Regions from separate parts of the Homo sapiens genome. Here region 2 is linked to region 1. Evidence: fine-mapped expression QTL. A gene starts in region 1. The other region holds a variant in brackets. All regions are shown on one strand. Distances are from middle to middle. Region 1 holds the start of OGG1 (8-oxoguanine DNA glycosylase). Region 2 overlaps TADA3 (transcriptional adaptor 3).

Region 1 (16,136 bases):
GTTAAGTTGGGATGGAAGAGGATGGAACTGCCACTGGCAGCAATGGAAAAAATGGTCTGAATATGAAGAAACAAATAGAATGAAAAGCGGGGAAGGGGAAGCTCAAGAAGTTGTGAAGTGGTTACTGCTGCTCATTTGGGCTGTGATGGCCAGGGATTTTTTTAGTTCTCTTGTGCCGTTTATTTGATTTACTATATATTTCTGCTGTACAGTTGTACTTCATTTTAAAACCTTCAAAGGCTCAGTCTCAGTGGGGCTCCCAGGGTCAAATAGTACTCTGGGCTGCAGTGACTAGAGCAGTCTTAGGGGCAGAAGTCCCTGATTGCTGGTGTACAGGGTTAGGGATCTGGTTTAGTGCTGGGAGCTTGGTTTCCTGTCTGCCACGGTACCACTGATGGCACCACTCTTTCTTCCTTGCCTTAAGTCCAGAGTCCCAGGCCTTTTGGACAAGAGATCCTCTCCCTTCATCCCCATTCAGGAACTTTCACTGGCCAGAGACCCTTGCTCTGCTTAAGAGAATCAGGGCCCAACAAGTTTTACTCTTTGTTTCCTGCCTCCCAGGCTTAGTAAAATCACCAACCGCCTGACCATCCAAAGGAAGAGCCAGTTCATGCAGAGGCTGCACAGCTACTGGACACTGAAGCGGCAGTCACGGAATGGGGTCCCATTGCTACGTCGCCTGCAGACACACCTGCAATCTCAGAGGAACTGTGACCAAGTTGGGGTACTGTGTCCAGTTCCCTGTGGGCTCTGGGAACTAGCGCCAGGGGGACGAAAACCAAAATTTGCAACTGTAGTTTCCAGTGTCAGAGGGCTTAGACTCTTTCCTCCTTTAAGCTAGCCCTCAAACCAGGATCAGCATGGAATGTTCAATGAAAAGATGTTGTTCCTATGTGTTTATGTATTCATTCAACAAACACATACCAAGCATTTATTCTGCCAGGCCTTGGGGACACACAGATTGAGGCACTACCAATAAATTACTGTGCTCCCTCTTTTGGCTTGACCTGAGTTTCCTGGGCTCTCTTCTCCCTGTTGACCTTTCCTCTGGCTTTCTAATCATCCTCTGATCTTCGTTTTGCCTCTACAGAGAGATTCTGAGGATAAGAACTGGGCCCTTAAAGAACAGCTCAAGTCCTGGCAGCGGCTCCGGCATGACTTGGAGCGAGCTCGGCTGCTCGTGGAATTGATCCGCAAGCGGGAAAAACTCAAAAGGGAGACGGTGAGTGCTCCTGGGCCAGCCCTATTTTATAAAAGAAAAAACAAAAAATTAGCCAGGCATGGTGGCAGGCGCCTGTAGTCCCAGCTACTCGGGAGGCTGAGGCAGGAGAATGGCGTGAACCTGGGAGGAGGGGTTTGCAGTGAGCCAAGATCGTGCCACTGTACTCCAGCCTGGGCGACAGAGCGAGACTCCGTCTCAAAAAAAAAAAAAAAAAAAAGACCCAGGAGAAGGAATAGCGTGTGTACCCCAGCCAGATAGCAGCAGGGCTGACGCTGGAGTCAGGTCTCCTGGTGCTCGGTGTGCTTTTAGTTCTGCTGGAAGCAGAATGTCACAGGAGCGTATGAACAGAATCCTCAGTTATGTGACATAGGTAGCTGGTGCTGGTAGTTCAAGAAAGGGGGAAGCCAGAATTGTTGGTGCAAGTTTCCCTGGGTGGAGCCTCATAGAAGGTAGACCTGTATGAGTACACCCAGCTGTGAGGGTGGGAAAGAAGGCGGGTTCCCAGGCCAGCTGGGACCATATCCTCAGACCTCTTTGCCACTGAACTGGCCGAGGCCTGGCTGATCAGGCCTTTTTCTATGTTAGATCAAGGTTCAGCAGATTGCCATGGAGATGCAGCTGACTCCTTTCCTCATCCTCCTTCGCAAAACCTTGGAGCAGCTCCAAGAGAAGGACACAGGCAACATCTTCAGCGAGCCGGTCCCTCTGTCTGAGGTAACCGAATTGGACGAAGTAAGAATCCCTTCCCCTCACTCCACCTTCTCTCTGTTCCTCTCCCAGTTGGACCCCTGCTGCAGGTCTGGGCCAGGACTAGATGGGGACCTTGAAGAGAGGGGCTGGTGGCTCTGGGGCAGGATGAACTGGAGCCACATGTATCACCTGGACTCTGTCTTGTCCCTGTCACACCCCAAGGGCCCAGAATGGGAGGCAGTCTGCACTCCTTCCCCAGAGGCAGGGACTGAGTCTGCCAAATGAATAATCCCAGGGCAGGAAGACACTTTCGGGGTGCTGAACCCTAGAACGGAGACTTTAGAAGGCTCAGCACCTAAAGAACCAGCTCTGAAGCCCTAGGTCCTGACTGGCAGACTCTTCTCTCTAAAAGGTATAAAATGAGAGGCCTGAGGCAGCAGCCTCCTTATAAGTTACTGTTAAGTAAAAAGAGCTGTAGGAATGCAAGGTGGTGTTTATTTTCAGAGGAGTCCCCAAGCCATTTTCTTACTAAAGCCTCATATAGTCTAGAAAGTATATTTGGCTCTACTTTCATCATTTTCCAGGAGAGGAAAAGTAGGCCCAGAGAGGTTAAGAGACTTGCCAAAGTCACACAGCTTGTGACTGGTAAAGTCAGGACCAGAATCCAGCTTTCCTTTCCCCTGTGCTATATGCCTGCCTCTAACTGTGGTGGGAGGAGGTTGCTGGATGTGTTTCAGGGGGGCTTGTTAGGAGCAGGGTTCGGGGCAATAAGGAGGATATCTCCACTTAAAACAAACCTGCCCTGCCCTTCCAGGTACCTGACTACCTAGACCACATCAAAAAGCCCATGGACTTTTTCACCATGAAGCAGAACTTGGAGGCTTACCGCTACCTGAATTTTGATGATTTTGAGGAGGACTTCAACCTCATCGTCAGCAACTGCCTCAAGTATAACGCCAAGGACACCATCTTCTACCGGGCAGCAGTGCGGCTTCGTGAGCAGGGTGGTGCTGTGCTCCGCCAGGCCCGGCGCCAGGCAGAAAAAATGGGCATTGACTTTGAGACGGGCATGCATATCCCCCACAGCCTGGCTGGAGATGAGGCCACACACCACACTGAAGATGGTGGGTGATATATCACACACACATATAAGAGGCCAATGCCGGGGATGGACAGCTTTCCAAAAGTCCCCTCCTGGGAGCAGGCAGTGTAGGCAGAAAGCAGCTAGGCTGAGCAGTGGCAAGCTATCCCCAGGAATGCTCCCCAAGAAGCCAGACTGGGTGAATGGATAGCAGTGCCCGCCATTCCACATCTTGGTGCTGCTATTTTACAGCTGTTCCTGGTGAGAAGCCCAGGGGGGATGAGTGGGTTTCTTGCTGCCTGCCCAGGTTCAAGGGGCCCTGAGGGCTGCCCTGAGTCTGACCTTTCCCCTCCAACCCTACCCCTAGCAGCCGAGGAAGAGCGGCTGGTCTTGCTGGAGAACCAGAAGCACCTGCCAGTGGAAGAACAGCTAAAGCTGCTTCTGGAGCGGCTGGACGAAGTGAATGCCAGCAAGCAGAGTGTGGGCCGCTCACGGCGTGCAAAGATGATCAAGAAAGAGATGACGGCACTGCGGCGGAAGCTTGCCCATCAGCGAGAGACGGGACGTGATGGCCCTGAGCGGCATGGCCCCTCGAGCCGGGGTAGTCTGACACCCCACCCGGCAGCCTGTGACAAGGATGGGCAGACAGATAGTGCGGCAGAGGAGAGCAGCAGCCAGGAGACAAGCAAAGGTCTGAATCCCATGGCAAGGTGGACCCCAAAGCAAGTCAGACTTTGGCTCTGCAGCACACACTCAACCCCTGCCATTCCCCAGGCAGAGGTCCCTCCTACACAGCTAGCTGTACTTTCTCCCTCATTCCCCAATCAGGGGCCTCTTAGCTGCCTCTCTGGCTATTTGTATAAGAGTTAATCTTCCAAATTCCAAGCCCCTAAAATGATCTCCCCAACGTTAGCTGGAGTAATGGTCCTATATGCCCAGGGCATGACCCTGGATATCTACCCTTCTCAAATCAGGCCCCTCACCAACTCTCCTTCTTTCTTTCTCTGCTCCAGGCCTGGGTCCCAACATGTCCTCAACCCCCGCACATGAGGTGGGCAGGAGAACCTCAGTTCTGTTCTCCAAAAAGAACCCGAAGACAGCTGGACCGCCCAAGAGGCCGGGCCGGCCCCCCAAAAACCGGGAGAGCCAGATGACCCCCAGCCACGGAGGCAGTCCTGTGGGGCCCCCCCAGCTCCCCATCATGAGTTCCCTGCGTCAGCGCAAGCGGGGTAGGAGCCCCCGGCCCAGTTCGAGCTCAGACAGCGACAGTGATAAGTCCACAGAAGACCCCCCAATGGGTGAGCCTTACCATCACCCAGCCCCCCAAGAGAGTGAGCAAAGCTGCCATTCTTCCCAGCATACTCCCAGTTACCCCTTTATTTGCCCATAAAAGAGCGAGCTAGAAGGGTCCTTAGGAATCCTTTAACTCCACTCACTCATCTTACAGTTGGGAAAACTGAGGCCCAGAGACACTACGACCCAGCTAAAGTCCCATCCAGGGCCCCCTGCCTCCATTGTATCACTTTACCTTTTCTCTTCTCACCTTCCTTGGGGATCTCCTGCCCTTTAAGCCATTTGTGTCCTAAAGCCAGTAACTGCCGAGGGAAGCAAGGGGTGGAGCAGGGCTGTGGCCAACTGTGGTAGACACTGCCCAGAGCTAGCTCTGCTGGCCAAGGTTGGAGGAATTTTCCAGCACAGAAGGGGAACCCAAGCTCCAAGTCCCTCTTACCTCCATGTCATCTCTGATCTACATCTTCCTGACCGGTTCCTTCCCTCCTCCCCTTCCCTTCAACCAAGACTTACCAGCCAATGGCTTCAGCGGTGGAAACCAACCAGTGAAGAAGAGTTTCTTGGTATACCGTAATGACTGCAGCCTTCCCCGGAGCAGCTCAGACTCTGAGTCCAGCAGCAGTAGCAGTAGCAGCGCTGCTTCAGACCGGACCAGGTACCAGCCCTCCAGATCGAGGCCAACCTCAGGGGATGCCCTTCCAGGGCTCTTGGGCCTGTGTAGGTTTCCCTGTTGGAAGTGGGGTGGCAGCCATCTCAGTCTAGATTAAGATGGCTCAAACTCAAGGTTCTCTGCTAAATAAATAAATCAGTGTTACCATTAATAGAACAGAGAGAACCATCCTGGATTAAGGTGATGATTAGAGTATGCACTCCTGCCGCCACTGCTCAGGCTAACCCACCTCTGTTAGGTCATCAGCCTAGCCCCTGTGGGTGTTTGAATTTGAAATTCCTCATATAGCCTCTGCTTTCCAAAAGTCTCAGACCCTGCGGGCTTTAAGAGCTGAGGGCACATACCATGCTGTTCCCCATTCTTCCCCTCCTTTGAGCTGAGCTCCCATTGTCTTGTCCACAGCACAACGCCCTCAAAACAAGGCCGGGGCAAACCCTCCTTCTCTCGGGGCACTTTCCCAGAGGACAGCAGTGAGGATACCTCAGGCACTGAGAATGAGGCCTACTCCGTGGGCACTGGCCGCGGCGTGGGCCACAGCAGTAAGTTCCCTTGCCCAAGGCCAGGGATGCTGGGGACCCAGTGTCAGGGTCTCGCCAGCCCCCCAGCTGCTGATCCACCCCCTCTCCCCCATTCCTGTGAAGTGGTAAGGAAGAGTCTGGGCCGGGGAGCTGGCTGGCTGTCAGAGGATGAGGACTCCCCGCTGGATGCTCTGGACCTCGTGTGGGCCAAATGCCGAGGCTATCCATCATACCCAGCTCTGGTATGCTTGCTTCTGTTACACTTCTTGCTTTCCAATCCCAGAATACAGATTCACAGTTAGCAGACTTTTCCTACTCCCTGCTGAGCTGTGGGGCACAGAGTTTCTTGGTAAGGTAGACTGGTGGGCAGATACAGCTTGAGTACCACTTAGAGGCTCCCACTCAGTTTCTCCATCTCTCCCTTTTGCTTCTCTTTGCTCCTTGGGCTCTGAAATAATTTAGCATGGAAAGAAGCTGAGGGTCAGCATTGCAGTTCTAGTAGCATGATACCCTCTCTGTCCCCACTTCAGACATACTCTCTAAGTTCTTGAGGAGGAAAAGCCTTGGGAGGACATGGACTGAACCAAACTGGGCTCTTATTATATCCTCAGATCATTGATCCAAAGATGCCCCGAGAAGGTATGTTCCACCATGGGGTTCCCATCCCTGTGCCCCCACTGGAGGTGCTGAAACTTGGGGAGCAGATGACCCAGGAAGCCCGAGAGCATCTCTACCTCGTCCTCTTCTTTGACAACAAACGAACCTGGTAAGGAGGGGAGCATTTGGTGTGACTCACAGCCACAGATGCAGCCCTGTGTGGTATGGGGGCAGACTGCCAGGAAACTCCAGCAACAGGCAGACTGGGCTATCACAAGTCAGTGGGGGAGGGACTTAGAACAGTTTTTTGAGCGAAAGGGTTGTGTCGACCATGTGTCTGAGAGGCTGAGTGGGCACTAGTGGACACAGCTATAGCTAGAAACCAAAGGACCATCAGAGACTTATGACAAATATAGAGGTGGCTCCCACCCAGACTCAGATGGCTTCTAGACTTAGTTTTCCCACCTCTGCCTCCACAGTGACAAAATGAGGATAAAGCAGGCATAAACATTCAGGCTCTGAATCCCTGTTCTGTCACATTTACACATGTAGTCTTTTTGTTAATTGTCTGCAGAGGATATTCAATGTCAGTAAAGTCTGCCTAGAGCCTATGGCACAGGGTAGCTATTTCTGGTGAGGTCAGGGTGCCTCCTTTTTGTACCCATAAATACCCTGTGATTACCCTCCCGCCGCCACCACACAGTATAACTGTTGACTGGGCTCTTTCATCTCTAGACCATGAACAGTCCTTTGAGGGCAGGGACCATCACAGAGTCTGGCCAGAGTGGGTGCTTGGGTGGTGTGTTTGAGTGAATAGAGGAGGAAGGCTGGTCCTTGTTCTCCCTGAGATGATTTATTTGATCTTCACCTTATCCTATAGGCAGTGGCTGCCCAGGACCAAGCTGGTTCCTCTGGGTGTGAACCAGGACCTAGACAAGGAGAAGATGCTGGAGGGCCGCAAGTCCAACATCCGCAAGTCAGTACAGATCGCCTACCACAGGGCTCTGCAGCACCGCAGCAAGGTGCAAGGCGAGCAGAGCAGTGAGACCAGCGATAGTGATTGATACTGCTCAACACAGCCCAACCTATAGTGCCCTGTGACTTCTCTCCTCCCCTTTGCTCACTGTCCTGGAGTGGCACCGGCCTCTGCACTGACTCATTTCTGGTCTTGGGGCCAGTCTCAGGGGAAGCTGGGTGGGGGAGGTCCCTCCTGCCCTAAGTGCAGCTGGACTGTACAGAACACTCCAAGGGCCAATGGCAGTTCAGCGCAAGGAGAGGGAGGGCCCACAGGTCAGAAAAAGCTCCAGAGACCTCACAGCATTGTAGGGCGGGGTGGTGGGCCAAAGTTAGGACACTGCGTAAAACAGGCCATCCCACCACCTCTACCTGCTCATGCCAGGAGAATCCATAACTGCCTAGAGGCCTGGGGCCCCTACCGGTCGTGAGGTGAGTGGGCATCTGTCCAGCCTGGAAGAGGGGCACTAGGTGACTCCCTCCCCTGCTGTTGTAAATACTGTAATTATCGGAGAATTTAAATTATTCTCATTTGTAACTGCGTTTCCGGGTCGCGCCAGAGTCATTTGGTACTAAAAAAAAAAAAAAAAAAGACTGGGGGCTGTCCCCATTTCCCTTCTCTTTCCCATAGATTCCCCCACCTTTCAAACTGGTTTGTATTTATTTCAAAGGAAGAAAATATATTGATTCTTAGAAAATAAACTGTCAATTTAGAATTCTTTGTTCTTGCCCCCTGCCAGGGCAAAGGGGATACAAAGGGAGGTTCTGTGCCCCAGGGATGATACATAATTGGGCCCAAGTGGTTGCTGACTGCTGTGCATGCTACATTTCATAAGACACAGCAAAGAGAGCCCCTGTTGCCCATGCATGGAGTGAGTGGCAGGCCCTGTGTTGAGCACCTTTAGACATTCAGCTTTGCGTAATCCTTGCAATAACTATAGGGTAGTTTAATAATAGACTGGTTATCTCCACAAAGATGCTGAAGTTTCAAAAAATTATCTTGCCTAAGTTCCTACAACTAGGAAGGTGCAGAGCTAGAATTGGAACCCAGGTCTGTTTGCAAACCTGGCTCTTCAACCAGTATGCTGAACTGCCAGGGGAAGAGTCAACTATCGATTCCTACTTGGCCCTTAGAGGCCTCAAGTCCTTTGCCAGTGGCATGGCCCAAGTGTTTCAGCATCAATACAGCTGAGACCTTCCCCACTGCTTAACCGGAGACAGAGCTGGGATGGAGACGGTTGCTCTTTGCTCACCCCCAACCTCAGCACCTTCTTTCCAGACTCCACCGACATTTATTGAAGGAATGCCTTCCAAGTGCTAGGCGCCTGTGGGATGGCATGCCTACAGATAGGAACAGTCACAGGAAGAAGGGGCGGCCCAGGCCTTGCAGCCACTGAGGACTGGCACTGAGACAATGATGGCACTGGTCTGATGTTGATTCCATGCTGACGGTACACTCCGCTAGGTCTCTGGCTGGGACACAAGGGTCAATCCGCTGCAGATGTTGCTCTTCAAGAATTTGCAGTCTGGGCGGGGTGCGGTGGCTCACGCCTGTAATCCCAACACTTTAAGAGGCCGAGGCGGCTGGATCACGAGGTCAAGAGATCGAGACCATGCTAGCCAACATGGTGAAACCCCATCTCTACTAAAAATACAAAAATTAGCTGGGCGTGGTGGCGCGCACCTGTAGTCCCAGCTACTCGGGAGGCTGAGGCAGGAGAATCGCTTGAACCCGGGAGGCGGAGCTTGCAGTGAGCCGAGATCGCGCCATCACACTCCAGCCTAGGCGACAGAGTGAGACTCCGTCTCAAAGAAAAAAAACTTGCAGCCTGATAGTTAAGATACAGCAACCCCAAATCCCTATGCTAAAAGGTGAGAATGGCCCAGATAAAGGTCATGTCTCCTAGCTCCCTGCTTTTTCATGCCATCCTCCAGAAGGGAAGAAATTAAATAATCCATCCTCCTACTCCAGGCGACTAGAAGGCAGGCTGCCTCAGGGCCACACACTGGGACTTGGACTCAACCTGATGGGCTTCTGGGCCCAGCCCCAGACAAACCCCCGGCAAACGTCCCATTCCGAGGAAAGCATGAGCAGATGGAGTATGGAAGAAATGCCCAAGACGGCAGGCAGCAGCTGTGGCGGCCGGCGGGACGACAATCCGAGGAGAGGCCTCTGATGTCCTGAGGTCTCAGAGGACGCCTAAAGGCCTTGAATGGGACAAGCTTAGCGGGCGGGCGCAGAAGAGAATAATACTCTGGAGACACTTCCCGAGGGCTCTGGGGCCGGAGCTGTGTTCGCTCCGGTTCTTGGTGAAGACAGGGTTCGTGGGAGGCGGCCCAAGGAGGGCGAACGCCTAAGACTGCAAAGGCTCGGGGGAGAACGGCTCTCGGAGAACGGGCTGGGGAAGGACGTGGCTCTGAAGACGGACAGCCCTGAGGAACCGCGGGGCGCCCAGATGGAACTCGTTAGCGCCCCGAGTGCAGACAATCCCGGAGGGGGAAAGGCGAGCAGCTGGCAGAGAGCCCAGTGCCGGCCAACCGCGCGAGCGCCTCAGAACGGCCCGCCCACCCTGATTTCTCATTGGCGCCTCCTACCTCCTCCTCGGATTGGCTACCTCTAGGTGAAATGAGCGGTGGTTGAGCCCTACTTCCGGTGGTGCTGTGGTCTGCCCCTGGAGAACCCAGAAGAACACAGCTGTGCGCGCCCACAGGCTCTGGGGGCGGGAGAAGATAAGTCGCAAGGAGGGGGCGGGACCTACACCTCAGGAAAGCCGGAGAATTGGGGCACGAAGCGGGGCTTTGATGACCCGCAAAGGGCGAGGCATGCAGGAGGTGGAGGAATTAAGTGAAACAGGGAAGGTTGTTAAACAGCACCGTGTGGGCGAGGCCTTAAGGGTCGTGGTCCTTGTCTGGGCGGGGTCTTTGGGCGTCGACGAGGCCTGGTTCTGGGTAGGCGGGGCTACTACGGGGCGGTGCCTGCTGTGGAAATGCCTGCCCGCGCGCTTCTGCCCAGGCGCATGGGGCATCGTACTCTAGCCTCCACTCCTGCCCTGTGGGCCTCCATCCCGTGCCCTCGCTCTGAGCTGCGCCTGGACCTGGTTCTGCCTTCTGGACAATCTTTCCGGTGAGTGACTGAGCCTGAGAAGCCTGTCCCCTCGGACTGGCTCCTGCCGCCTCAACACTGCCTGGCATGGGGTACAAAGGAATTTGGGGGATGATGGAAGAAACCCGGGGTACAAAAGAGGAAACAAGCACGGGTAGCCAACCTGTTACCTTTAATATGTCTGTACAGTGATAATTGTAAGGATCCAGCGGTATAACCGATGCAGAAGATAATAGCACTTGTTTTTCTTTTTTTGAGACAGGGTCTCGCTCTGTTGCCCAGGTAGGAATGCAGAGAGGCCCATTCCAGCCTCGACCCCCCGGGCGCAGCCTCCCGAGTAGCTGGGACTACAGGTGTGCGCCATGCCCGGTTAAATTTTTGTATTTTTTGTAGAGGTGAGGTTTCGCCATGTTGCTCAGACTGGAAGATAGCACTGTTACTTGTATTAGTTTCGTACATGGAGCTATTGTAGGATAGGAGGGACCCCAAAGGGTGCAAGAAAGGAAATTGAGTGCCAGGGTTGTCATGTGCCTTGGGCTCAGGTGGAGGGAGCAAAGTCCTGCACACTGGAGTGGTGTACTAGCGGATCAAGTATGGACACTGACTCAGACTGAGGAGCAGCTCCACTGCACTGTGTACCGAGGAGACAAGAGCCAGGCTAGCAGGCCCACACCAGACGAGCTGGAGGCCGTGCGCAAGTACTTCCAGCTAGATGTTACCCTGGCTCAACTGTATCACCACTGGGGTTCCGTGGACTCCCACTTCCAAGAGGTGGCTCAGAAATTCCAAGGTGAGTACAGGACCTGGGCTGGGGTTAGGGTTCTTGGACATAAGTCACTTCTCTATGACTCAGTTTTGCCACCTGTAAAATGGGGATTATATCTACTTCATAGGCTTTTATGAGGATTTAAGGAACTAATACATGTAAAGTGCTTAGAATAATGCCAGGCACATAGTAAGTATTATTACCATTATTATTATCCTGCTAATCACCATAGTGAAGTGACAAGGATTTTGAGCCCATTCCTGGTTGTGTGACCTAGGGCAAGTGATTTCATTCATTCTGTAAATATATACAAAGCATCTGCTGTGTGACCGGGGATACACCAGTGAACAAAACAGACCCAAATGCCAGTCCTCATGGAGCTTACATTGTGGCCTCTTTATCTGTGGAATGGGATGGTAACTCAGCCCTCACAAGATGCTATGAGGAATGAGAGGTCTGGTGTTGCTTTCTCTAACGGTGCTGACTCTCATTCTCCTGGGATCCTCCTGGAGTTTTGGTACCTAGGATCTGACCTGTGGGTGGGAAGAGGCCACACCCAACAGCAGGTACCTCTCCTACCCCCTGCATTTCTGGTCTCCAGGTGTGCGACTGCTGCGACAAGACCCCATCGAATGCCTTTTCTCTTTTATCTGTTCCTCCAACAACAACATCGCCCGCATCACTGGCATGGTGGAGCGGCTGTGCCAGGCTTTTGGACCTCGGCTCATCCAGCTTGATGATGTCACCTACCATGGCTTCCCCAGCCTGCAGGCCCTGGCTGGTGAGTAGGTGGGTCCCCTGCCCCCAGGCCTTCCATCAGCTTTCAAGATCTGTTCATTTCTCCCCTGGTTACCTTCTCAAGGCTTCCTGCCTTCCCAAACACTTCCCCTATCCAGAACCGCCCTGCCTGGTCTGATCAACTCCAGTTACTCATCCTCCCTATGCATCCCTAAAATGTCAGCACCTCACTGGTCTGTGCTTTTTGCCCAATGGGTTCAATGCCTAATCAGAAAAATATCTGTATACAATGTACAGTAGTTTGGGGTTAAGAGCATGCATTCTGGGGACAGACCCATGCCTGGTTCTGAACCCCAACTCTCACTTGGGCACATTATTTAGCATCTCTGTACTAAAGTTTCTTCATCTGTGAAGTAGAATAATAATAGCACCTACCTATGCTATTATTGGAGTTGTCATGAGGGTTGAAGAAAGGAATATACATACTGCACCTAGCACAGTGTTTGGCACACAGGAAGTATATGTAAAATTCAAGCTGGTATCAGCCAGGCGCAGTGGCTCACACCTGGCTAACACAGTGAAACCCCGTCTCCAGCCTGGGCAACAGAGCGAGACTCTGTCTCAAAAAAAAAAAAAAAAAAAAAAATTCAAGCTGGTATCATTGTAGTGAATGGGATAGTTTTGTATCTAAGAACACGTGTGTTCTTCACAGTAGCCCTGTAAGGCAAATGTTTTACAGAGGCAAGTGTATCGATTGGCAGATGTGAGAACCAAGCTAGGACAAGTGCTTGGGAACTGCATAGCAAAGAGACAGACTGCCTCAAAACAGGAGAATGTTTTTGGTGCTTAGAAACCCATTCCTGGCCGGGCGTGGTGGCTCACGCCTGTAATCCCAACACTTTGGGAGGTCGAGGCAGGCAGATCATCTGAGGTCAGGAGTTCAAGACCAGCCTGGCCAACATGGTGAAACCCCATCTCTACTAAAAATACGAAAATTAGTCAGGCGTGATGGCAGGCACCTGTCCCAGCTACTCCGGAGGGTGAGGCAGGAGAATTGCTTGAACCCGGGAGCAGGAGGCTCCAGTGAACCAAGATCAGACCACAGCACTCCAGCCTGGGTTACAGAGCGAGACTCCATCTCAAAACAAACAAAAAGAAACCTGGGTCAGGCACGGTGGCTCACACCTGTAATCCCAACACTTTGGGAGGCTGAGGCAGGTGGATCACCTGAGGTCGGGAGTTTGAGACCAGACTGGCCAACCTGGTGAAACCCGCTCTCTGCTAAAAATTAGCTGGGCGTGGTGGCAGGTACCTGTAATCCCAGCTACTCAGGAGGCTGAGGCGGGAGAATCATTTGAACCTGGGAAGCAGAGGTTGCAGTGAGCTGAGATCATGCCATTGCACTCCAGCCTGGGCGACAGGGCGACAGGGCGAGACTCCGTCTCAAAAAAAAAAAAAAAACCTGGCCGGGCGTGGTGGCTCACACCCGTAATCCCAGCATTTTGGGAGGCCGAGGCGGGTGGATCACGAGGTCAGGAGATCAAGACCATCCTGCCTAATACGGTGAAACCCCGTCTCTACTAAAAATACAAAAAAAATTAGCCGGGTGTGGTGGTGGGCGCCTGTAGTCCCAGCTACTTGGGAGGCTGAGGCAGGAGAATGGCGTGAACCCGGGAGGCGAAGCTTGCAGTGAGCCGAGATCGTGCCACTGCACTCCAGCCTGGGCGACAGAGTGAGACTCTGTCTCAACAAAAAAAAAAAGAAACCTGTTCTTGAGTCTCAGCTCCTGGCTTAGTTAGTCATAAGGCCTCAAGAAAGTCATTCACCTCTTCCGGCTTCTCTTAGCTTGTTTGTAGAATGGGAATAACAGTTTCTATCTAGAAGGGCTTTGGGAGTGAATAAAGCAATCATGAGGCAGTGTAGTGTAATGGGTTAAGAGCACGGCGTTAGCCAGGTGGGGTAGCTCATGCTGGTAATTTCAGCACTTTTGGGAGCCCAAGGTGGGAGGATGGCTTGAGCCCAGGAGTTTGAGACCAGCCTGGGCAACATAGTGAGACCTCATCTCTACAAAAAATAAACAAAATTAGCCAGGCATGGTGACACAAGCCTGTAGTCTCAGCTACTCAGGAGGCTGAGGTGGGAGGATCGCTTGAGCCTTAGGAGGTCAAGGCTGTAGTGAACTGAGATTGTGCCACTGCATTCCAGCCTGGGTGACAGAGCAAGACCCTGTGTCAAAAAAAGAAAAAGCACAGGTCTTGGTGTCCCAGACCTAGGTGCAAGATCTTATCTCCCCCATGTCCTTTCTTAAGTAAGTTAACCTCTTCTAAGCCCTCATTTTCTCCACATGTAAAATGGGAAAACAGCAGTACTGTCAGTGGGGTTCTTGGGAAAAGTAAGCATGATAATATATCTGAAGCATGTTGCCTAGCACTTGATCATAGAAGCTGTTGCTATATTGTGGTTATTTTTTTAGATCATGAGTGTGAACACTCTTTCGGAAAGGTTAAGGAACTCAGTTGGGGAGCTCCTCAAGGGAAGCAAGTCCTCAGTCCCTGGACTAGACTTGGGCTCCGGGGCCAATTCATAGCAGGTGCTCAGAAAACATGTGTAGAGGGACAGGACCCAGGCCTAACCCTTTCCCTTGCACATAAAAGTGTCCACTATCCCATAGAGGGTGGGGAGGTAGGAGGGGAACTTAGGAAAAGCACTCTTGTGAGGTAGAGAGCTCACTTACTAGCCTAAGGACAGGAAGAACTTGAAGATGCCTGATGCTTGCCCTCCTCCTCACTCCCCGCAGGGCCAGAGGTGGAGGCTCATCTCAGGAAGCTGGGCCTGGGCTATCGTGCCCGTTACGTGAGTGCCAGTGCCCGAGCCATCCTGGAAGAACAGGGCGGGCTAGCCTGGCTGCAGCAGCTACGAGAGTCCTCATATGAGGAGGCCCACAAGGCCCTCTGCATCCTGCCTGGAGTGGGCACCAAGGTGAGGCCCCAGGGGGTAGGAGCTGCCCTCTCTACTGACACTAAGAGGAGAGCAGGAAATGAGCCAAGCCTGGGAGCTGGGTGGAGGCTTGGCTTCCGGAGGCAGAGCAGGAAGGAGAAAGGATATAAGTAGATGTTTTATGAGAGAAAAAAGCAGAGTGCAGAAAGAGTAGAAAGGATATAGCCCTTTGAATGAATTTCTAGAAAGACCATTTGTTCAGATGCAACACATATATGCTGCTATATATATGCAGCAATTTCCAGAAGGAAATTGCAGGAAACTAAATAATAGTTTCCTTGGGGGAGACAAATGGGAAGATATTTCTTCTTTTCGGTTTTTTGTTTGTTTGTTTGTTTTGGTAGAAATAGGCTCTTAACAATGTTGCCTAGGCTGGTCTTAAACTCTTGCCCTCAAGCAGTGTTCCTGCTTTGCCCTCCCAAAGTGCTGGAATTACAGGGATGAGCCACTGCTCCCGGCCACATTTTGTTCCTTTCGTAAAATGACATGTACTGACAAAACTTTTTGCTTGATGTCAATAGGGTTAACTGGCAATAAGATGACTGGAAATTAGGCATTTGTCTTTTTTTTTTTTTTTTTGAGGTGGAGTCTTGCTTTGTTGCCAGGCTGGAGTGCAGTGGTGCAATCTCGGCTCACTGCAACCTCCGCCTCCCGGCTTCAAGCTATTCTCCTGCCTCAGCCTCCAGATTAGCTGGGATTACAGGCATGCGCCACCACACCCAGCTAATTTTTGTATTTTTAGTAGAGATGGGGTTTCACCATGTTGGGCCAGGATGGTCTCAATCTGACCTCGAGATCCACCTGCCTCAGCCTCCCAAAGTGCTGGGATTACAGGCGTGAGCCACTGCACCCAGCCTTTTTTTTTCTTTATACTTCTCTGTAGTTTAAAAAATGAATTTTTGCTTAAAGATTTTTTTTTGATGGGCTTTGGACTACAGCCTAACATTAAATCTTGGTTCTGCCTATTCTCAGCCATGTGACTTTGGCCAGGTCACTTCACCTTTCAAAGCCTCAGTTTTCTTGTCTGTAAAGTGGGTGTGGTAATACCTTCTTCCCAGGTTATGATAACCTGGCCCACATAGGTGTTCAGCTAGTAGCACCTCTTATTACAGCAATTTCAGTGTATTCATAGGCCGCGCATGGTGGCTCACGCCTGTAATCCCAGCACTTTGGGAGGCCAAGGTGGACAGATCACTTGAGGTCAGGAGTTCGAGACCAGGCTGGCCAACATGGTGAAACCCCATCTCTACTAAAAACACAAAAATTAGCCACACGTGGTGGCACATGCCTGTAATCCCAGCTACTTGGGAGGCTGAGGTAGGAGAATTGCTTGAACCTGGGAGAGCCAGGATTGCACCAGTGCACTCCAGCCTAGGCAACAGAGCGAGACTCCATCTCAAAAACAAACAAAAAAAAAGTGTATTCATAGATAGTATCTGTTGATTGAGAA
Region 2 (16,136 bases), 31 kb after region 1:
GCAGCCGGAGGAGGCACGTTGCTTGGGACCCCACTCCACCTCCAAGGGCCTCCAAGTGCCACTCCCTACTCCTGAATTCTTGCATGTTCCAGCTGGTGATGGGGAGAGAACAGTGCTTATGCCCAGCTCATTTCCTTTTTCTCTTTCTTTCTTTCTTTTTTCTTTCTTTCTCTTCTTCTTTTTTTCTTTTTCTTTTTTTTTTAAGACAGGGTCTTGCTCTGTCACCCAGGCTGGAGTGCAATGGCATGATCACGGCCCACTGCAGCCTCAAACTCCTGGGCTCAAGTCATCTTCCTACCTCAGCCTCCCATGTAGATGGGACTACAGGTGCGTGCCACCACACCTGGCTTTTTTATTTTTTGTAGAGATGGGGATCTCACTATATTGCCCAGGCTGGTCTCAAACTCCTGGGCTCAAGCAATCCTCCCCAATCAGCTTCCCAAGGTTCTGGAATTACAGGCATGAGCCACTGCACCTGGCCAATTTATTATGCCCATCTTACAGATGAGAGAGGAAGATAGCTGAGGTTCCTGGAAAGGCTTTGGAGTCTAACTGATCCTGGTCATGCTTTACCTCTCCGAACCTCAGTTTCTTACTCGGGAACATGGGAATATTGAAGATTGACTCAGAGTTCTGAGAATTCTATGATATAATGATATGAAGTGCCTAGAACACTATTCAAAACATGAGAGCTAGACTCAGTGTAAACTGAGACTCAGAGAGAGGACTTGATTTGGCCAGGGATGAGGGGTTAAGGGATCCATCTTCCAAATCTCAGTATCTCAGACTCCTTAGTTCATGGAAAAATACATTTCCTGCTCAGGGCTGAGCCCCCACTCTCCCCTATACCCACCAAGCACACCCACTGAGCTAGGGGTTCTTTTACCACAAATTCCTGTTCATCTTGATGACAACACCCCCTGGGTGATAAGATGACCTCTGTCCTTTCGAGGACTTGTACAACTTCTTTTTTTTTTTTTTTTTTTTTTTTTTGAGACAGTCTCCCTCTGTTGCCCAGGCTGGAGTGCAATGGTGCCATCTCGCCTCACTGCAACCTCCGCCTCCTGGGTTCAAGCAATTCTCCTGCCTCAGCCTCCCAAGTATCTGGGACTACAGGCGTGAACCAACACGCCCAACTAATTTTTGTATTTTTAGTAGAGATGGGGGTTTCACCATGTTGGTCAGGCTGGTCTCGAACTCCTGACCTCAGGTGATCCACCTGCCTCAGCCTCCCAAAGTGCTGGAATTACAGGCATGAGCTACCGCGCCCAGCTGACTTGTACAGCTTCTATGGTGTGCTTTACATTTTTCCTGCTTTTGAGCATTTCTGAGAGGCCTCGTGTTTTCTTTTCTTTAACAAACACATTATCTTTACTTTCTTAGTATTTCTATTGAACAAGTGATACATGGTCATTGCAGGAAAATTCCATAATGTATTGAAAACACACACAGACTAACTGATGAGATTCTTTCGCTTCCCAAGTGACAGAATGCCAACCTAAACCAGCTTCATCCAAGAGGAATCTATAGTTCACAATAGCTGGCACAAGATTGCAGGAAAAACACCAGAGATTAGGGGCTTGGAGACTGGAACTGGAGATGTAGTACTCATAGGATTTGCTTTCTCTGTCTTCCCTCCTCTCTCCTTGTCTTGATTTTTCTTCACACGTTGGCCTCTTTTTCTCTCCAGAGTGAACTTCTAGTTGGCAGGAAACATGGAGTGAGGCAGCCCCAGCTTTCCAATTAAACACAGTGGAAGGAAAGCATCCTCCCAATTTCCTATCTCATTCTCAGGGAAGGACTCTGGCTCTGCTTGAGTGATAGAGTGACATGTTCACCCCTTGGCCTCCAAAACTGTTGCCAGGAGAATTAGGGTGCTATATTGAGCAAGTGTACTGTAATGGGCAGCCATAAGGAATGGAAGAGGTATCTTGTCCAAAGGAATTAGGGGTGCGAGGGAGGCAAGAATAACACAACACTCTCAGCCGGGCCCCCACCAACCAGAGACAACCAGTGTTCACATTTTTAGTACAATTCTTCCAGATTTTTTGGATGCGTATACATATACATCCTTCTGCAGCCCCCAGTCCCGATGAGCACATTTCAAAGTACTAATCAAAAAGTGAGTGAAGGGCCAGGCGTGGGGAGGCCAAGGTGGGCAGATCATCTGAGGTCAGGAGTTTAAGACCAGCCTGGCCAACGTGGTGAAACCCTGTCTCTACTAAAAATACAAAAATTAGCTGGGTGTGGTGGCATGCACCTGTATCCCCAGCCACTTGGGACGCTGAGGCAGGAGAATTGCTTGAACCCAGGAGATGGAAGTTGCAGTGAGCTGAGATTGCACCATTGTACTCCAGCCTGGGTGACACGGCAAGACTACATCTCAAAAAAAAAAAAAAAAAGTGGCTGGGTGCGGTGGCTAACGCCTATAATTCCAGCACCTTGGGAGGCTGAGGCGGGTGGATCATGAGGTCAGGAGATCGAGACCATCCTGGCTAACATGGTGAAACCCTGTTATCTTTTGTATTTCTACTAAAGATACAAAAAATTAGCCAGGCGTGGTGGCGGGCGCCTGTAGTCCCAGCTAATCAGGAGGCTGAGGCAGGAGAATGGCGTGGACCCGGGAGGCAGAGCTTGCAGTGAGCAGAGACCACGCGCCACTGCACTCCAGCCTGGGCGACAGAGCGAGACTCCGTCTCAAAAATAAATAAATGAATAATAATTTAAAAAAAGGTGAGTCAAGGAAAGTCAAATGTTCTCAGGGAAAAGGGGGATGATCTTTTCTTCTTTTTTTTTTTTTTGAATGGCTAAACAGTGCAGACATCTCCATCAATTCTTTTATTTATTTATTTATTTATTATTTTTTTGAGACAGGGCCTCACTCTGTCACCCAGGCTGTGGTGCAGCGGCGCCATCATGGCTCACTGCAGCCTTGACTTCCCAGGCTGGAGTGATCATCCCACCTCAGCCTCCGGAGTAGCTGGGGCTGCAGGTGTGTACCACCATACCTGGCTAATTTTTTTTAGTTTTTTATTTTTTGTAGATATCGGGTCTCTACTCCCTCTGTTGCCCAGACTTCTCTGGAACTCTGGAATCAAGTGATCCTCCTGCTTGGGTCTCCCAGAGTGCCGGGATTATAGGCGTGAGCCAGTATGGCTGGCCTCCATGAATTCTTGAACCTGACAGAAAAGAAGCTATTGAAAGAGTGAGTAGTTAACTAAGATTAGAGAAAATGGAAGAAATAACAAGGAAAAGATGGACAGGTTTATTTTTTAAAATTCTTTGGCTGGGCGTGGTGACTCACTCCTGAATCCCAGCACTTTGGGAGGCCAAGGCAGAAGGATCACCTGAGGTCAGGAGTTCAAGACCAGCCTGGGCAACATAGTGAAACCCCATCTCTACTAAAAATACAAAAATTAGCCAGGTGTGGTGGCGCATGCCTGTAGTCCCAGCTACTCGGGAGGCTGATGCAGGAGAATCACTTGAACCTGGTAGGCGGAGACTGCATTGAGCTGAGATTGCACCATTGCACTCCAGCCAGAATGACAGAGCCAGACTCTGTCTCAAAAAAAAAAAAAAAAAAAACAAAACTTTAACTTTTGTTACTTTTTTTTAACTTTTTTTCAAAAAGTGAAAACCCTACTCTACTCCGAAATGGTAGCCAAAAATGAAAGGCAAACTTCAGACTGGGGAAATGTTTTGTAGACAATGGCTTAATATATTTATTATATAAACAGCACACAGGATTGATAACAAACAGTAAGAACCTAATAAATGGTCAAAGGATACAGATAAAACACAGTAAACACAGGACATTTTGTATCTCACTAGTGATACAAAAAAGTACAAAATAGAAGGTCATTTGCAGCCTTTCAAATTTGAAGTTTAAAAAGCTGGTAACACTGAAGGCTGATGTTGATGTGAGGAATGAGTAGTCCTACATTCTGGTGGGAAAATGATTTGCTAAAGATCCTTTGGAAAGCAATTTGGCAATATGCATCAAAGGCTTAAATAATGTCGAGGCCTTTTGATTCAGGGACTCCTCTTCTGGCAATCAATTTCAGAGAAGTAATCCTAAATTAGGACAAGGCTATATGCTCCAAGATGTTTGAGTAATTTTTTTTTTTTTTTTGGCTGGGCTCATGCCTATAATCCCAGCACTTTGGGAGGCCGAGGCAGGAGGATCACTTGAGCCCAGGAGTTCTCACCAACATGGTGAGACCCTGTCTCTACTAAAAATACAAAAATTAGCTGGGCGTGGTGGCACACGCCTGTAACCCCAGCTACTCGGGAGGTTGAGGCAGGAGAATCACTTGAACCTGGGAGGCTGAGGTTGCAGTGATTTAGATTATGCCACTGCACTCCAGCCTGGGCAACAGAGCAAGACCCTGTCTCAAAAAAAAACCCCAAAAAAACAAAAAACAATATGCCCTGAGCTTTTGATTAAAGGTTTTGATAAGAAATCACCATGTGAAACTTAATTTCCATTTGCTATCAAATGTATGGAGAGTATTTTCAATGTATGATTCCAGTTTCCACATGAGATATTACTGAAACAGATTTTGGAGGACATCTACCAGTCTGCCACATTCCACATCTCACTTGTATTTCTTTGCACCAACTTCACCCTCACTCCCTCTCATTAGTCCAGCCTCTATGCTGCTCTGAGAGTGCTTTCTGCTCACAAACCACCAGTGGCTCCCTGTTACTTCAGAATGTGATTCTCAAACTTTAATATGCACCAGGAATCACCTAGAAGGCATGTTATATATAATGTAAGGCTATGCCCCATACCCAGAGGTTTTTTTTTTTTTTTGAGACAGTCTCACTCTGTCGCCCAGGCTTGAGTGCAGTGGTGTGATCTCTGCTCACTGTAACCTCCACCTTCCAGGTTCAAGCAATTCTCCTGCCTCAGCCTCCCAAGTAGCTGGGATTACAGGTGCGTGCCACCATGCCTGGCTACGTTTTGTATTTTTAGTAGAGACAGGGTTTCACCATATTGGCCAGGCTGGTCTTGAACTCCTGACCTCAGATGATCCGCCTTCCTTGGCCTCCCAAAGTGCTGGGATTACAGGTGTGAGCCACGGCGCCTGACTATACACCCAGAGCTGTTGATTCAGTAGGTCTGTGGCCTGAGAATTTGCATTTTTATCAATTTCCTAAGTGATGCTGTTGCTGGCAGTCCAGGGACCACACTTGGAGCACCATTGTCTAGAGAATAAAGTCCATGCTCCTTAATCTGCCATTCAAACCCTTGCCCAGCCTGGTCTTCAACCTACTTTCTAGCTTCATCTCTTATCCTTTCCTTTCCCCTCCACACACCCAGGGCTCCAGTCACACTGCAGTTCTTACTTCTCTCTAAGCAGGCCAGCTGTTCACACCTCTGTGCCTTGCTCCTTTTGTCTGGAATGTTATCTTCTGCCCAGCAATTTTCTTTCCACATCCTCCCTGAAGCCTTTCCTGACCCTCTAAGCTGTTGTTAAGTCTTTCTCTGCCCCAGGTCCCTGCCAACTTTGCACAGTCTTCTTTTTTCTTTTTTCTTTTCTTTTTTTTTTTTTTTTTTTGAGATGAAGTCTCGCTCTGTTACCCAGGCTGGAGTGCAGTGGCGCGATCTCGGCTCACTGCAAGCTCCGCCTCCCGGGTTCACGCCATGCTCCTGCCTCAGCCTCCTGAGTAGCTGGGACTACAGGTGCCCGCCACCACGCCCGGCTAATTTGTTGTATTTTTAGTAGCGAAGGGGTTTCACCATGTTAGCCAGGATAGTCTCGATCTCCTGACCTCGTGATCCGCCCGCCTCGGCCTCCCAAAGTGCTGGGATTACAGGCGTGAGCCACCGTGCCCGGCCTGCAGTCTTCTTATTGCTCTTGCGGCCTAGTGTTTTGATTGTCTGTCTAGTGTGTCCCCATTTCTGGAGCCTTAGTCACCTCCATAGCTCTCAGCCATGGTGACAGGGTCACTGAATGAGGGAACAAAAGTATAATGAAGAAGTGGAGGTGTGTGGATGGAGTGAATAAGTGAATAGGGTAATTAGGTAGGTGAAGAGAAGAAATGGGGAGTTTATTGATACCTAAACGAGTGAGTTACAGTCCACTGGACTTGGTTCTTTCCATTGAGTCCTGAGCCCCAGGCCAAGAAATAAATTTACTCCCCGACCACATTTCCACAAAGCTCCTGCCATCACTTTCTTTTCAGCAGGAGCCAACTGGGACCCAGAGCACTTGGTGCCCAGAGTACTCAGGAGCAGACAGGGGCTGGGGACCCACTGTGGGTCAGAGCTCACCCTCCCCGTTCTCACTCACCCTGGTGTTGCTGAAAGTCAGCTGTAAGGCATTTGGAACTCTGGGGAGACCATGATGTGCAAGACAGATGCTTTCTAGGGCCAAGACACAAAAGGCTTTGCCTCCAAACTAGTGATAAGGAATCAGAATTGTTTTGAATTAAATTTGGAGACTTGAGGTACTGGAACTAATCCGCCCTCCTCATGACAACCCAGCTTCCTCCACACTCATAAAGGAGGCATCTTTTGGCTCCAGCAGACACTGATATGATTGTAAGAACTCTGCCAGGGATGGTGCTACCTGGGGGCAGCAACTATTCCTGCATCAAGGCTGCATGGCCTCAGCAAGGCACAGCATCTCTTTGAGTCTCTGTGTCATCTGCAGGCTGGAATATTACTCTCCTTGGAGGTGCATGGTAAGCATCAGATAGGAGGGGTGGGTAAAGGGCCTGGCACAGTGCCAGGCAGATAGTAGGTATGCAACAGAGAACAGCTAGAGTGCTCATGACTGATCCTTGAAAGTTAAGTTTCTTCTCTGGTGAACCAGGCCCAGTCGGTCTTCTAGGGTTCTTCTTTCTATTTATATCTGTCTTCCTTCTTTCACAATTCCATCCAATTTTGGGATGTCAGCTCTCATCCCACCTCCTCCACAAAACTGTCTCTGTTCTTGGAACTCTCTACCAACAACGCCCACCATACTTATGGTGTGGCCCAGTGAACATGGAAGTGAGTGGTTAAGAGGAGGGGGGTCTTCAAGCAGAGCTGCCATATATGGCTGCACAGGTTGGGCACTGCCCAAGTATAGGGAGTACCATTCACATACACTGTAATGGGAGTGGGGCCCCAGTGAGTTGTAATGAAGAGGCTCTCTCTGTAAGCCAAATGGCCTGAGTTTGAATGTTGGCTCAACCACTCAATTGCTTGACAAAGCAAGGTATGTAACCTCCTAAGCCTCAGTTTCCTCATCTGTAAATGGGATGTTATTATGGGGTAGCTGATACCTACCCCATAATATTAGGTAGTTGAATGAGTTCAGAACAATGCCTGGTGCATACTAACATTTACTGAGC[C/A]CTTCATTGCATTATCATTATGATTAGAGTTGGTTTCTCATCATTGCATGTGTGGGTGTCTTTTCTCTCTGAGAAGGCTGTGAGCAACCTGGGGACAATGAGTCACTGAGAAATTGCAGCAGCTTGGCCCAGCACCTAGTGGGAGGCAGGGCCTCATGCTGTCCTCTCTCTCAGGATCCTACTTCATCTTTCTTTTTGCCAAAATTCACTTGTAATAGGCCTTTTTTAGTTACAAATCACAAAACTCTAAAGCAAACTAGTTTAAGCCAAAAGAAGCCTTTGTGGGCTGATATATGTGGGAAGTCTAAGGGAGGATCCGGTGGCTTCAAGAATAGCTGGATGCAGCACTTCTCCATCTCCTGGCTCTGCTTTTCTGAGCTGGCTTTATTCTCAAGCAGGTTTTTCCCCATGGGAGGAGAGCAGGTCACTGGGGTAGACTGAGTTTATAGTCTATGGCTTATGGTCCAACAAGAAGTGGAACTCTCCTCTCAGCATCCACAGAGCAATCTTATGGAGGGCCTCGAGTGACCCAGCTTGGGTTACATGCCTGCTTCTGGGACTAATCATTGTGGCTAGAGGGATTGGCACTTGACTGGCCAAGCTGGGGTCATGTGTGCACCCTAGTTTGGCAGTTGGACAAGAACCATGTGTGATGGGGAAGGAACATTTCTCCAACAGAGAGGTGCTGGGTATACGAGAATGTTGGCCATGTTCGCCCTCCTTCTTTATGGCTCAGTTCATAGGTCACTTCCTTAGGGAATCTTACCCTCCCTTCTCTCCTGCGTGGACCTCAACCTTCCCACAGTAAATTGCAAATTATTCCCTGATTCTCTCAGACCAGTCTGGGAACAACTTGAGGCAGGTACCAGAGCATATTTATTCATCTGTGTCCCTTAGGCCAAGCTTCCTGCCCCAGCTGTGGAAGAGACGTTGTCGGTGGTCTATCTAGCACTCACTTCCCTGTTTCCTACTCAGATCTTGTTGGGTTTTACTCTCTCTCCACCACCTTGATGGAGTAGCAAACTCCACTCTGACTGGCATAAAGCCATTACAGTCTCCTTTGCCACAGTGACTGAGGAATGGGCATGTGAGACTGAGTTTGGGCCACTGAAACATGATGGTATCTGGGAAAAGGCTTCTTGCTTCTGTAGATGGGCCATGGAAGCCCGCTGGCTCCGGCTCCCTCCTGTGCTGGATGTAAATGAGGAAGCATCTGGCCCCAACTGCTCCACTGCCACACTACAGCCAGAGAAGGACTCACCTTAGGCAGAGGTCGACACTGTGGAGGGCAGTGTGGTGACCCCTAAGAAACCTGGACCCTTGGGGGAGGGGGGAGGGAAAGCATTAGGAGATATACCTAATGTAAATGACGAGTTAATGGGTGCAGCACACCAACATGGCACATGTATACATATGTAACAAACCTGCACGTTGTACACATGTACCCTAGAACTTAAATTAAAAAAAAAAGAAACCTGGACCCTTGATGACCCTGAAGAATTGCTAGATTGGCTAACCGTGAAGGCCACTCTGTCCCAGGACTGCCCATCCTGCAGCCAACACATTTCCTTACTGTGAATCCACTTTGAGCTGGGGGGGCATTGTTACGTGCAGCCACAAGTATCCTCAGAAAGAGGTACTCAGAAAGTTCTCCCTGACTGAATGCCATGGGTTAGTGGCCATGGGCTGAGAGCCACCAAGCATACCCCCCACAAACCTTACCACCCACACTGGTTCCTTCCTCCCCACTGTAACAGACATTCAAAGACTGGATGCTTTTTTTGAAAAACCACAGCAGTCACTTTATTCTTAAGTTTGCACTTTACAAAACCACAAGGGAGAAGTCCTTGAAGGGGAGACAGGGGTAGGGGATTAGGGAGTGGGGGATGGTAAAGAGGGGAAGAGGAAGACCCAGAAACGAAGTCCCCTCCAACCCCATCTCGGGGACCAAGCAGAGACTAGGCCTCAGGCTAGCCCAGCAGGGCTTCCTGTGTCCTGGTTGTACAGAGCTAGGCCAAAAGACCTCAGGGGAAGGGCCACGGCCCTCTAGAGACTGCCGCCATTTGAGGGACAGCCACAGGCCAATGTTTCCTGTGCCCAAAGAAGGAAGTGGGCCTCCCTTCCCCTCCCCTAGGCCAGATAATCAGCCTGAGGCAGGGGTGAGGGCTACCCATCCAGCAGCTTCAGGATGCTCTCACGCTCCTTCAGAGTCTTCCAGGCCTGGTCCTTTTCTTTCTTGGTGGGAGTCCGCTTCTTCTGCCGGGCAGCCATGATCTTGCGAAAGGCGTCCATGACCTCGTTGTCAGCCATGCGCACCCGCTGCCTCAGCTCCTGCCGGCTCACCTCCTCCTTTGCCAGCCTGTGGGGACCAGCCAGCCAGGTGCCAGGGTCAGCCCACCTCCAGAGAACAACCCCTCCCTCTTCAAGACCGAGCCTACCCACCAGCCCAGGCTGGCATGCCTGTGGATTGTGTCATACAGTCGTGACCAAAAAGCAGTTACTGACCTACACTTACATGGCACTATCTTAAGCTCCTGAAAAATATTAACTCATGTTGATCACGGGGGAGGCTGTGCACATGTGGGGACAGGGAGATACGGGAATTCTCTGTACCTTTCTCTCAATTTTGTTGTGAACTTAAAACTGCTCTAGAAGAATAAAGTCTTGGCTGCACATGGGGGTTCACATCTGCAGTCCCAGCACTTTGGGAGCCCAAGGCAGAAGGATCACTTGAGCCCAGGAGTTCGAGACCAGTCTGAGCAACATAGTGAGACTGTCTCTACAAAAAATTTAAAAAATTAGCTGGGTGTGGTAGTGCACACCTGTAGTCCCAACTCCAAGGGAGCTGAGGATTGCTTGAGGCCAGGAGTTCAAGGTTACAGTGAACTATGATCATGCCACTACACTCCAGTCTGGGCAACAGAGCGTGACTGTGTCTTCAAAAAAAAAAAGGTCTTAAAAATATACACAGTAGGCTGGGCAAAGTAGCTCATGCCTGTAATCCCAGCGCTTTGGGAGATGGAGGCAGGAAGATCACTTGAAGCCAGGAGTTGAGACCAACCTCGGCAACAGAGTAAGACCCTGTCTCTAAAATATATATATATATACATACACACACACAAACACACACACACAGGCACACCCACTCTCTCTCTCTGTCTTTCAGTTAATCCTAACAACCCTGCAAAATATGTACTATTATTCATATGTTACCCGTGAGGAAAATGAGGCTCAAAGATGATCCCAGGATCCCACAGTTAGTGAGGGGGAGATCTGGAGCAGGCTGGGGCCAAACTCTTGTTTTTAAACACTGTTGTTTCAGGTGTTCCGGTGCCAGCAGAAGGCCTGCTTACGTCGGCATCTGCATTCCAGAGCCCCCTAAGGTCTAGGCAGCCTGAGGCTGACAGGAGGTGGGTGAGACACCAGATCAATCTCTCTGAACAGGGTCTGATTTATACATTTCATCGATGGTGGAGCTGGAAGGTCACTTAGTGATTGAGTCCAGCCTGCCAGTTTTCCAGAAGGGGAAGGAGATGCTCAGGTCAGGGGCTGCTTAAGGCCTTGCAGCTGCTCTGCAGCAGGGTAAGGGCTGTGCTCTGGTTTCCTGAGAGCTGCAAGCCATTTCTTCATTGCCCATTACTTCTTTTTTTTTTTTTTTTTTTTTTTTTGAGACAGGTCTCACTCTGTCACCCAGGCTGGAGTACAGTGGCCTGATCAAGCTCACTGCAGCCTCTACCTCCCAGGATCAAGCAATCCTCCCACATCAGCCTCCTGAGTAGGACTATAGGCATGTGCCACCATGCCTAGCTGATTTTTAAAAATTTTTAGTAGAGAAGGGGGTCTGACTACATTGCCCAGGCTAGTTTCGAACTCCTGAGCTCAAACAAGCCTCCCACCTCAGTCTCCCAAAGTGCTGGGATTACAGGCATGAGCCACCAGGCCCAGCTAGGGCCCACTACTTCTGTAACTGCACATGCCTGCTTTTCTCTCTCTTCCTCTCTCTCCCTCTGCTTCCCTCAGTGCCTCTTCCATCTGTGTTTTCTTCTTCTCACCTTTCAGAGAAAACAAACTATTATAGAAAGAGGCTTTGATTCAACCACAGGTTCAAGTCTCAGCTTGCTGTTTATTGACTGTGTGACCTTCAGCAGAGCATTTCGCTTCACTGGGCCTTTATTTCCTCATCTGGTAAACAACGAAAATAGCTCCTCCCTCCTGGGTTGTTGTCAAGACACTTGAGAGAGTGTACATAAAGCCCCTGACACACAGTAGGCCCTCAGCATACATTAGTCACTCTTATCCTTAAATACCCTGGCAGCTTGTCAGCAACTACCTCTCCTTTTAATGGCACTTATCTTTACTGATCATCTGCTAGTAATCTGCAAGTCCCTTGCTCTGCCTCTCTTGCTGGCCCCCAGCACAATATCTAAGAGACAGTAAGAATGGCCAAATGATTAGCCTGGCATGGTAGTGCATGCCTGTAATCCCAACTACTCAGGAGGCTGAGGCAGGAGAACTGCCTGAACCCGGGAGGCGGAGGTTGCAGTGAGCCGAGATCATGGCACTGCACTCCAGCCTGGGCAACAGAGTGAGACACCGTCTCAAAAAAAAAAAAAAAAGGCCAAATGAATGAATGTGCCCTGTCCTGTCAGGGCTCTATGAAGTTAAGACACAGCACTTGTCTGTGAGAAGCAAAGAGACTTGTTCGGGTTGCTTCCCTATCTCTTTACCTAAAGGGTAGCTATTCCACAGTCTTCCTCAAGATGTCACCTATACCCTCGTGATCAATGCAGAACAAGATGGATGGGAGTTGACATCAAATGAATGGCAGGCACTGTGATGGATTCCCAAAAGAACATGTCCTAAAACACTGGTCAATTTCTTGTGATGAGCAAATAAAAATCACAGATCTCCAACAAAATGTTAACAGTTAATTAGTCTAGGTGGAGAATATACTGATGTTTATTGTATGATTCTTTCAGATTTTCTGTGTGTATCAAATTTTTAATAACAAAACTTTGGGGATAAAAAGAAAAGAAGCATGAAAAGACAAAAAATAAATCACACAACAATGTGAATATGGGTAACACTACTAAACTGTACACTTAAAAATGGTTAAGAAGCGTAAATTTTTTTTCTTTTTTTTTTTGAGATGCAGTTTCACTCTTGTTGCCCAGGCTGGAATGCAATGGTGCAGTCTCAGCTCACTGCAACCTCCGCCTCCCAGGTTCAACTGATTCTCCTGCCTCAGCCTCCCATGGAGATACATTTTATATTATGCCTTTACCATAATTAAAAAACCAAACTAGGCCAGGCGCAGTGGCTCACGCCTGTAATCCCGGCACTTTGGGAGGCCGAGGCGGGTGGATCACGAGGTCAGGAGATCGAGACCATCCTGGCTAACACGGTGAAACCCCGTCTCTACTAAAAATACAAAAAAATTAGCTGGGCGTGGTGGTGGGTGCCTGTAGTATCAGCTACTCAGGAGGCTGAGGCAGGAGAATGGCATGAACCTGGGAGGCGGAGCTTGCAGTGAGCCGAGATCATGCCACTGCACTCCAGCCTGGGTGACAGTGCGAGACTCCCTCTCAAAAAAAAACAAAACAAAAACAAATCAAATCAATCGGTCAGTCACAGATGCCTGAGCCCCACTCTGTGGAATCAGAATTTGTTTGGGACATACCCGGTGGACTGGCCACTGCTGTTTTTTTCGAGGCTCTCCAGGTGATTTAGAGGCCAGCCAGGATTGGAAAGCCTGTTGTAAAACCCCTGAAAGGTGACTAGCCGTGGCCACAGCCTCCAAGGCCACCCCCGGGACTGTGCATCCTGCTAACGCTCACCTCAGCAGGTCGTGCTTCTTGGTGCGGTTGTGGGCACTAAGTGCCTTCAGCTCAGCCTGCCGTTTGCGAAGCTCAGCAAGGACCTCATCCTCGGAGTCCTCTGCGGGGCGGTCCTCAGACTCCAAAAGGCCCTGGGCAATTAGCTCCTCCTTGATGCGGCTCTCCAGGGACTTAGTATGCGGCACACTGCAGCGGGAGGCAGGCCCGTCAGACTCAAGAGCCAGCTTGGAGAAGGGCCCACCTTGGAGGTTCCCAGGGCTTCCCAAGGTCAGTGAAAACCTGCCTTTCCCTTTGGGCACCCCCTCTGTATCTATCCAGATACAAAGGGAGGGACAGACACATCTGGTCTGGTTTTTAAAACAAGCAACGTATGTATCTACTATTCAAAAAATATGGAAAAACCCATAATGCCAACAACCCAGAGAGAATTACTATTATTTTGTTATATATTATTATATATATTCCAGATTTTGTTATATATTATTCCTAATCTTTTGCTACATATTAGTCCAGGTTTTTTCCCTTATGTGCACATATTTAAATATATTGTAAGTAAGCCAGGCATGGTGGCTCACACCTGTAATCCCAGCACTTTGGAAGGCCGAGGTGGGAGGATCACCTGAGGTCAGGAGTTCAAGACCAGCCCGGCCAAGATGGTGAAACCCCGTCTCTACTAAAAATACAAAAATGAGCCATACATGGTGGCAGGCGCCTGTAATCACAGCTACTTGGTGGCTGAGGCAGGAGAATCGCTTGAACCTGGGAGGCGGAGGTTGCAGTGAGCCAAGATTGCGCCATTGCGCTCCAACCTAAACGACAAGAGCGAGACTCCATCTCAAAAAAAAAAAAAGAAAAAGAAAAAAAGAAATATATTTTAAGTAAAAATAGTATTATACCATCCATACTGGGCTACAACTAATATTTTCTCCACTTGTCACTCTATAATTTACATCTTTTCATGTCATTTAACTATATTTCTCTATACTTGCAGCTATATGATTAATAGCCCCAAGTTATTTCATCATATGGAGTTATGCCAATTTAGCCAACCATTCCCCTTCAGCAGGACATTTGGGTTATTTATGGTATGAACAGTTCTGTGCTGAACAACCCTGCACTCAGTCTGTGCATGCAGACACGCTGGGTCATCACTCACACTTGAGACTGCTATTAGGCTTCACCTAACTGCCCCCAGCCTCTTACTGATGAGGACTTCCCCAGGTTGAGATGGAGAGAAGCCAACAGAAGCGGGGGCCAGACTGTGGGTTGTGGATAGGACACCACTCACCTGAAGGGCTTGTTCTGATTGCGAGGGGAGGTGCTTGCCCCGTCAGCCCCTGATTCTTTCCCAGACATGTCAGGAATAGGAGAATCCTCCATAGGGGAAATAATATTTTCCTAGAAGACCACAAAAATGAGTGGAAGGAAAAATAGCTGTTCCACTTTCCTGCTCCTTTCTGACCTACACTGACAGTCTTCAAACACCAGAAATATCCTTTTATCTTTCCCATCCCACCTACCGTGGGAAGCCTTCCCATACCAATCCCAAATTGCTTTGATCATTCTAGAAATCCCTTTTATTTTCGTACTGATGTGAAGAAAAAGGAACACAGAAGAGAAATGATTAACACTCAATGATGGTAATGAACAGCTAAGGTTTGTGAAGCGTCTGCAACGCACCAGGCAGTGTGCTAGGCCTGCTGTGGCGGAGATGCTAGCTGTCCGAATGCCATACTCTTCTTTCCTCCACGGCAGCTAGGCAATGCCTGTCCAGTTGTACTTCCCAGGCTCTCTTGCAGGCGGGTATGGTCATGTGACAAGTTCTCTCCAGGGGAAAGTGATCAGAAGAGATAAGAGCCATAGCTAGGCATGGGCCAAAAAGTTTCCTTCACACACTCCTCCTTGTTTTGTTTTGTTTTTTTTTTTTGAGATGGAGTCTCACTTTGTCACCCAGGCTGTGGAGTGCAGTGGCACAATTTCGGCTTACTGCAAGCTCCGCCTCCTGGGTTCATGCCATTCTCCTGCCTCAGCCTCCCAAGTAGTTGGGACTACAGGCGCCTGCCACTATGCCCGGCTAATTTTTTTGTATTTTTAGTAGAGACGGGGTTTCATCATGTTAGCCAGGATGGTCTCGATCTCCTGACCTTGTGATCCGCCCGCCTCAGCCTCCCAAAGTGCTGGGATTACAGGCGTGAGCCACCGCGCCCGGCCTCCTTGCTCTTATTCTGTGGGACTGGAGTGACAATTACGCCCAGAGTGACCTTGTGCAGACTGCAAGGCCACCGTCAGCTGGGGTCCCTGTCTGATGATATGAGATAGAGACCTGCCCCTTCCCCTACCTTAGATAACCTGCAACATGTACCCAGACTGTTCCATGAGATAAACTCTTGTGTTTGAGCCAGAATAGAAAACTGAGTCTCAATGAGGTGAAAGAGTGTGAGGGTGTGTCTAAGGTCAACCAGCAGGTATAAAGACAGGGCCCCTGAAGCTAGGGTTTGAATCCTGGTGTGTGAGACCTCAAGTGAACAGTTCCCTTTTCTGAGCCTCAATCTTCTTATCTGTAACACAGCGTTAACCACTGTCCTGGCCTCCAGTGGGAGGATGTGTATAAAGCCCCTCCAACAGATGCTTAGCAAAAGTAATTGTGGAGTAAGGCTACCTTTGGGGAAAGTTGGAGAAAAACAGGGGCATGAGAGGGGCTTCTAGGATATAGTAATGTTTCATTTTGTAATCTCCAGGCTGGTAATACAAGCTCATTTGTGAAAACTGTACATTTATGATCTGTGCACTTTTCTATTAGGTGCACAAGTTATATATTATTCCCAATCTTTTGCTATATATTAGTCCAGGTTTTTACTTTTGCACCAACCTATTTTTGCACCAACCTAATAAATGTATGATAAATTCCGATAAAAAATAAGCATAACACATTAAAACACAAAGTAAATATGG

What was found. PIP is the estimated chance that this variant, and not a neighbour inherited with it, causes the effect.
Region 2: its variant is fine-mapped to the expression of OGG1 in whole blood (INTERVAL, PIP 0.92).

The regions. Positions count from the first base shown.
Region 1 is chr3:9,740,218-9,756,353 of GRCh38, forward strand. It overlaps OGG1 (8-oxoguanine DNA glycosylase), which reads left to right and starts at 9,735. Exons shown (of 7, transcript NM_002542.6): 1 at 9,735-10,206; 2 at 10,728-10,975; 3 at 11,553-11,732; 4 at 14,487-14,668. The coding sequence starts at 10,070. It overlaps BRPF1 (bromodomain and PHD finger containing 1), which reads left to right. Exons shown (of 14, transcript NM_001003694.2): 4 at 562-724; 5 at 1,091-1,222; 6 at 1,808-1,954; 7 at 2,727-3,036; 8 at 3,361-3,684; 9 at 4,007-4,291; 10 at 4,791-4,938; 11 at 5,356-5,492; 12 at 5,595-5,713; 13 at 6,083-6,237; 14 at 6,949-7,798. The coding sequence ends at 7,132. RefSeq lists enhancers at 9,309-9,358, 9,389-9,508.
Region 2 is chr3:9,770,844-9,786,979 of GRCh38, forward strand. TADA3 (transcriptional adaptor 3) reads right to left here. Exons shown (of 9, transcript NM_006354.5): 7 at 14,473-14,582; 8 at 13,185-13,370; 9 at 9,124-9,706. The coding sequence ends at 9,514. It also overlaps a transcript of OGG1 not described here. Among named protein-coding and RNA genes, the nearest start is that of CAMK1, 9.0 kb to the left of the region's middle. RefSeq lists an enhancer at 7,302-7,596 and a silencer at 12,070-12,119. The variant C/A (reference allele first, on the strand shown) is at 7,348.